Linked DNA regions of Homo sapiens. The protein of the gene in region 1 interacts with the protein of each later gene in a biochemical or structural test. Each region holds a gene or a part of one and is shown on either strand. Other genes may lie near its edges. The genes, in order: CAP1 and MYOC.

What was found.
Region 2: the proteins of CAP1 (region 1) and MYOC interact in far-western blotting, tested with the Homo sapiens proteins (one study listed by BioGRID).

What each region holds. Positions count from the first base shown.
Region 1 is NC_000001.11:40,064,609-40,068,425, reverse strand, and holds part of CAP1 (adenylyl cyclase-associated protein 1), read right to left. Parts: intron 2,212-3,817; coding exon 2,106-2,211; intron 887-2,105; coding exon 709-886; intron 1-708. UniProt on the Homo sapiens protein: Directly regulates filament dynamics and has been implicated in a number of complex developmental and morphological processes, including mRNA localization and the establishment of cell polarity.
Region 2 is NC_000001.11:171,642,470-171,646,286, reverse strand, and holds part of MYOC (myocilin precursor), read left to right. Parts: intron 1-3,817. UniProt on the Homo sapiens protein: Secreted glycoprotein regulating the activation of different signaling pathways in adjacent cells to control different processes including cell adhesion, cell-matrix adhesion, cytoskeleton organization and cell migration.

The DNA.
Region 1 (3,817 bases):
GGTGACGCATGGCTGTAATCCCAGGTACTCGGGAGGCTGAGGCAGGAGAATTGCTTGAACCTGGGAGGTGGAGGTTGCGGTGAGCCGAGATCGCGCCATTGCACTCCAGGCTGGGAAACGAGCAAAACTCCGTCTCAAAAAAAATAAAAAAATAAAAAACATTTCATCAAGAGGACATGTGGTAGTTAGCCATTTCTCTTACAGTTGGATTTAGGTTGTTACACCATTTTTAGCTACTATGATCATAGATTCCTAGAAGTGGCTGGACAACTCAGACTTCCACCAGCTGTGTTAAGGGTATCTACTTTATACCAACATTAGGTCACTCTCATGCAAATTTTCCATGTAACCAGTATGCATCTTCTGAGGAAGTTAACTCCCTAACACAATGCCTTCCCAGAGGCCATGTGGTGCCACGGAAAAAGCTCTGGGGAAAACCGCCAGCTCTGTGCCTTGGCACAAGAGGGTCCTCTATATATGCTACCTAATATTAAGTCACTTTCCCATGGGGCAGATGGCTTCCTCCAACTGTGATCATCATTTTCAATTTCCATTTAAGCCAGCTTTGCCGTCCCTTAAAGGAACAGGACACACCAAACGAGTCTCCACCACACAAGCCAGGGTTGTAGTTTACAGACGGTTCTGGTTGGTGGGGTCTGGCCCACACAACTTGTTGTACCTACTGTTCGTGTCCAAGTGCTCACTCACCATGTGTAATGCTCTCCCCCTGATTAATCTGCGCGAACAGTGATGAGCGGGAAGCAGACTCATATGAGCATGAAATGGTAGAGACTGGGGGAGGAGGGGGGCATGGTGGAGGGGGAGGAGGACATGATCCGGCAGAGGGTCCAGATGGCAGTCCGCTCAGTTCTTTTGCCACAGGCCCCTGGAACAATAAGTGCAGGTAACATCATCATCCTCTCTGCTCCCCTCTGTACCATTCCCAGTAGTGCCCTACATGGGCCAGTGCACATGGGGTCCCCACCACAGCCTTTGAGGCAATGATTAATGTGTCCTACCCATACCCAACTTGGCTTTATGCCTTCTCACCCTTTCCCAAGGATCCAGCTCTCAGTTCTATTTCTTGACCATCACATTTTGCCTTTGAACTCACCTGATTCCAGCTCTAAAAACTATTTCCACAAATCTACTTGACATCTTCCTTAGTGTGTTACCAGTACCTCTGATTCAACAGATTCAAAACTGATTTCATCATTTCCTGCCGCTCCTCTCCCTGTACAATCATCCCCTTGTCCCTATTTCAGTGAAAGATGTTACTATCCAAGACTGACTATTCAATCTTCTTTGAGGATTCCAACTTCTTCGACCTTATCAAATCTCTATTATCTTGGTGCTATCTCCTGCAAATGTTTTTCTACTATCCCCCAAACACCATGACCACTTTCATAATCTGAGCATGAGTCCTTATCCCTAACCTATACACTGAGACTCTTTTAAAGACAAATTGAATCATTATCACTCCCTTGCTCAAATACCTCATCCCAAAGTCTCAGCCTACCTTCCTTTCCAGCCTTTTCTCCTAAAATTCTGATCATTTCCCCTTATTGAAGCCAGAGATGACCAATCTCTACATTTACTCTGCATGTATTTTGTTTAAGCTGTGCCTTTTGTAGTATCCCACTTCTCACTGCCCTATACTACTTTCAAGTCTCACAGAAGAGTATATACCTTCAAAGTACAATCTCTTCTAGTGAGAAGCACTCTTCTCTTCCTCATACTCTAGTCTGTATCTTTATTATAGCATTTGGCTTGGTGATTTGTATTGGGGTTTTGCATTCTTATTTTTAAGCTCCTTAAAGGCTGGGATAGTGTAACTCATTTGTGTGTGTCTCCTGCTCCAGCACCAATCACTGTCCCTAACATATTTATTGAAATTGAATACCACTGAATATTCCTTCTCCTCTGATCCTTGCTTCCTCTACTCTTTTTACCCTTTCTTTCTCCTCCTTTTCTTCCTCCCTTCCACTGAAAAAACTAGCATTCCCTCACAGACTTTGGTAGTGCTGAAGTCTAAGAAACCTGTGGACCCCATGCTGGAGAGAGAAAGTGGGAGGGAGGGAGGGAGGGAGGAAGGATTCACTAACCGTTTTGCTCCAGGCCAGTCCGGTGGTATGGAACTCCTTAATGTAAGCCTGCAGCTCTGTCCATATACTTAAATAAGCTTTGACCCAGTCTACATGCTTCTTATCCCTGGGAGGATTAAAGAAGAACTTGTCACAGGTGATCCGGGTACATAACAGTGGTGACTCCAGAACCCTTCTTTCCTATGGGCTCACATTCTCCTACCCGTGGTGTTTCTTAGGCTCCGCTCAATGGCAGCTTTTCTATCATCACCAGCTTCTATGTATATACAACCTAGTCTATTACCCTAATCAGACCAAACTCCACTAAGATAGAGACTCTGGATTCTATCTCTATCTCTCATAGCAATGTTTCTCAAACTGTTTTAAGTACCAAAACTTTTTTTTTTCTTTTGACCACTTGCTGCTTATTGAAACTTTTTTCAAAGTAGACCTTAAACACAATCTAATATGTAAAACTGATAAAAGCAGACATTCTGTGCATAAAACCATGGTAGAGAGGAGAGCTCTTAAGTATCACTGTGGAACTCTAAAGACTAAGAAACTTAACTGCCTTATGAGACAATGCCTTATGTCAAAATATGCCCACCCTGACCAAAAGCAAACTTAAAAACTTTCCCTTAGGGGGAAACAATCAGCCTTAAATTATAGAAATAGCATTGTGCCTACGGTTCAAGTCCCCTCTCTTCTTATGTATTAACTGGGAAGGTTATTTAGCCTAAGACCTAGTTTCCTCAACTGTAAAGTGATGGGATAATGGTGGGATATATCAAAACACTGTCATGCTTAATTCCATGTTGCTAGAAGGATAAGGAAGTGCCTGTTGTTCTGGGACACATTTCACTCACAGGAAGGTGTAGTTTTCCTTAAAAAGAGTAGTTAATAAATGTTTGTTGATTGATGAAGGATGGAAGAAAGGAAAGGCTTGTGTAGATATGCAACTTAATAAATTTTGCCTGCAATCATTCCAGCTCAAAACCAGCAATGGAGAAGTCAGAACTGGTAGACGTATGTGGTTAGACATGCAATGACTGCCCTACGTAATACCTGCATTGGCTAGGCAGCCTTACTCTCACTTTAACTGACTTCATGAAAAATTTCTATTAAGTCCTATTGAACCCTTTGCCATTGGGCCAGTAACAAATTCTCAACAAAGGAACAAAATCTTATATAAAGGGCATTAGTCCATGTTACTGCCAGCAAAACTTCCTAAACCCAGAAGGGTAAGGATCAGAAGACTAAAAGGGCCTCTACCAAAAAAGGAGAGAAAGCAGAAGTGGAAGCAGAAGTATTTCCTGCTTGCAAATGCAGCTGTGAGACAATATCTGTAAAGCTCTCCAGAAAGCAGCCCTGAGATAAAACCAGCACAGTGGCTAAGGGCAGCCCTCAGTAACTCCAAAGTGCTACTCCAGCAAGTAACCAAATGGGTTTATCCTTTACCCCTTGAGAAAAAGCTGAACTTGGCTGGGCACAGTGGCTCACACCTGTAATCCCAGCACTTTGGGGAGACCAAGGCAGGAGAATCATTAGAGACCAGCCTGGGAAACAGTGAGACCTCATCTCTACGAAAAAATTAGAAAATTAGCCAGGCATGGTGGAGCGTGCCTGAAGTCCCAGCTACTTGGAGGACTGAGGTGGGAGGATTGTTTGAGCTGGGAGGTTGAGGCTGCAATGAGCTGTGATTGTGCCACTGTACTTCAGCCTGGGTGACAACG
Region 2 (3,817 bases), about 130 Mb from region 1:
AGCTCAGCATACTGGGGCTCAGAGAGGTGGAGTCATTTACCCAAAGTCACACAGCTGGGACATGGCAGAGCTGAACTAGGAGCTATGACTTCCGGCTTAGGTCCAGGCCCCTTTACGAGATTGTTTCCCTGCCTTTGGGTTTTGCATCCTCTATTCTGGGCTTCCACCCGCATGCCAGATGGCTCTATTCCTGGAGTCTGACCATTGCCAGATGCTCCTGGCTGACATGACCTAGAAGAAGCCAGCAGGCTCATAACTTAACCATCGCCCCTGCCAAATGGGAACTGGCCTTGCCGTCATCCTGGAAGCCATTCCCTGACATTTTGTTTTATTGCAGTTCATGTTTATTCCAGCTAATGCACATAAGGAGTGGTTCCTGCAAGGCACAATCTGAAGGGCTCCTTGCTCAGAGCCGTAAGGGCCATGGTGGGATTCAGCAGGGAACTTGGCACCAGCCAGGCACTTTTGCTGCCTCTTCTTTGCCAGTGAGGGTAGAAGAACTGATAAGAGGATTGAGTGCACAGCCCAGGAGCTGAGAGTTTACAAGGCAACCCACTGGGACCTGAGCTCAGCCCCAGGAGTGGGTCACCCCACAAAGTGCTGAGCAGCATCTTTGAGACTCTTCTGAAGCCTCCAGTAGCCATCTGGGTCCAGTCGGGAGATAGAAATCACACAGTGGGTTAAGCTGGGGAAGTTTACTTTAAAGAATTACTAACCGTGATGAAAGAGCAACTATAGATAGACGTGAACTCCATAGGCACCTAGGGCTGAGGGAGGGTGCCGGACAAGCTTGGAAGGGGAAGGTGAGGTTCAGCACATCAGCTTGCAGAGAAGGTGGCTAAGGTGTGCAGGCCTCAGCTGGTCTGCAGCTGCAATAGGCCGCCTCCCAGTGCAGGTGAGGAGGGCAACCTGCAACGTGTGGCAAGGGCATGGTGGGAGTCAGGGCAGGCACAGGCAGGAGGCCTCCAGAGCACTGAGGTCCGTGTGCAGGGACTCTGGGTTCCTTGTTGGGAGGGCTGTGGAAAGGTTATGGCCAGGCTGTGGCTGTGAGGTCACAGAAGAACTTCGCTCTGGGTCCGTGGCTGGGGTAGGACTCCAACAAATGTCCTCACAGTCATACCACCTATGGACGCAGGACAGGAAAACTGCAGACCTTTTTCCTCCCACGATGTCCCTCCAGCGCCCTCTACTGAGATAGTTCAACATCGCGCTCACTTCAAAGCTCTTGTTCTTCAGACAGCATACATGGGAGGGTGCATTCAGCTCTGAGAGGCAATGCGTTTATAACTGACACACCTCCTCAGCACAGGATGGAAGAGTTCGCAGCTGCCATGGCCTCGGAAGACATGGGTTCAAGTCCCAGCGATACCACTTAGCTGTGTGACCTTGGGCATGTTACTTAACCTCTCTGAACCTCGGTTTCCTCATTTGCAAAAGGGGATATTAATGTTCACTTTCAGGACCATTATTTGAAAGTAGTGAGTAGCAAGCACCCAGCACAGTACTGGCTCATAAGAGACACTTAATAAGTAGTAGCGATAGTTCAACTTTATCAGGCGCTATCTGCAGTCCTAAAGCCTTTCTCTATTTCTCTGAAACTTTGAAGGCACCAGATCACATTTAAAAATTACATAAAAATTACTTGAAATGGGCAAAGAGCTATAAATGCCGACAAACCATCTTGTTTCACAAAAAAAAAAAAAAAAAAAGCTGTTTTTTAGAGTTGCAAAGCCAGTACATACTTTAGCTATCCACAAGGAAGTCATCTGTGAAAATGCCTGACTTTTTTGGGTTTCACTTTCTTCCTTCCCTCTATAGCAAAAGGGGCATTTCTTTCTTAATTTTCTCCCCACTGACTGGTAGGTAGGTACCCCTACTTTTCTTAGTATACATCTTTTCTCGGTAAGTTGTTAAATTAAATAACCAGCATAAAATACATCATTTTGTATGTGTAAAGGGGCCAGATGCAGGGGAGGGATGGCTCGCCTGAATTTAATATTTTTTTAAAAACCTAAAAAAAAAAGCCCTAAAAATGTTAACGATCTGTCACAATATAGCCCTTAATATTTTCATAATCTCTTTTTGGTTTTCTTCCACATTCAGAATGAAATGTTAGTGATTTTGAAACATTCCAGAGAAATTTTAGTATTGACACATTTATTAAGGGACCCTCCCATGGCAACTGTGGATGGCATAGCTGAAGTGTAGGGACAAGGTTGGGGCAGTCCTCCAGACTTTGTGTACAGATGGCATGCAGTATTTCTCTCTCCTCACATTGCCTGAAACCAACTCCTTTTTTTTTTTTTTTTTTTTTTTTTGAGACAGAGTCTCTCTGTCACCCAGGCTGGAGTCCAATGGCACAATCTCAGCTCACTGCAACCTTTGCCTCCCAGGTTCAAACGATTCTCCTGACTTAGCCTCCCTAGTTGCTGAGATTACAGGCATGTGCCACTATGCCCGGCTAATTTTTGTATTTTTAGTAGAGACAGGGTTTCAGCATGTTGGTCAGGCTGGTCTCGAACTCCTGACCTCATGATCCACCCACCTCAGCCTCCCAAAGTGCTGGAATTACAGGCGTGAGCCACCATGCCCAGCAACTCTTATATTCTGAGAGTTGAGACAATGAAAGAAAAGAAATTTGAGTTGTCCTGAGGCAGAGTCTGCAGTGATCCAAGAAGAGGTACAGATGAAAGGAAACCAGCTCAATTCAAGGAACTTGCTTAATGCCCTGATTTTGAAAAATTGTCCTGGCAAGACTTTGCCACATCGAATGAGCCTCTGCACATTGCAGGAGGCTGGCAGGGCCAGGGAGCGGTGGGCTGCTCCTAACAGCCTGGGTGTGTGTTCTGGGCCTAAGAGAGAAGGCATGGCAATCGGCGAGGCAGCATCAGAGAGGAAGGTTACAGATGGTTCTGCCACCTGTGTACAGGAAGGCGGTCACTCTCTCTTACCTCTCCCTGGCAGCACAGAAGAACAGGGAACCTCGGGCACCCTGTCCCTCTCCCCCATAGGCAGCACCAAGTCCCTGCCGGAGGTGTGTGTTGCCTGCACAGGGGGAGAAGGGAAGCAGCTGGTACTGGTCTCAGGTCGATCTAAGGAAACTCCATTTGACCTAGTGAATCAGTCCCTGCCCTGGATACCCTCCTAGGCCAATGCAACCTTTAGAATGAAGAACAAAGGGGTTTCCTCACCCCTGCACAACCTCAGATAGGGAGAAGGAGACGCAGGGAATGAAATAAAAGTTTCCAGGACTCTCCAGGAGCCATTCAGATTGTCCAAGAAACTGGTTTCCGCAGCAGCCTGGAATAAACCCATTTTCCTTCTCGGGTATGAGGACTTTGCCAGATTATGATTTCCTTAAGGGCATGGACTGATTGTGTCTTTTTTTTTTTTTTTTTAAACATAGACTAGCCTATTAGACAAACTTGTGTCTTAGACACCTTTTTTTCTTGAGCACCTAGCACAGCCTTGCACTCAATAGGTGCTCCAATGATGTGACTAAAAGGATGGATAAATAGCTCTGTGGATTTGAGGCTAGGAATAATGAAGGCCTGCCATGTCCCGGGGGGTACTCCCAATTGCCCCTGGAGTTTGGAATGCACATTGAGGATGTCCTCAGTTACATATACATTTTGGCTTATGAGTCTTTCTTTTTTTAATTTTTTTTTTTTTTAAGACAGGGTCTCACTCTGTCACCCAGACTGGAGTGCAGTGGCATGATCATGGCTCACTGCAGCCTTGCCCTCTTGGACTCAAGAGTCATCTTCCTGCCTCAGCCTCCCGAGTAGCTGAGACCACAGACTGCACCACCACACCC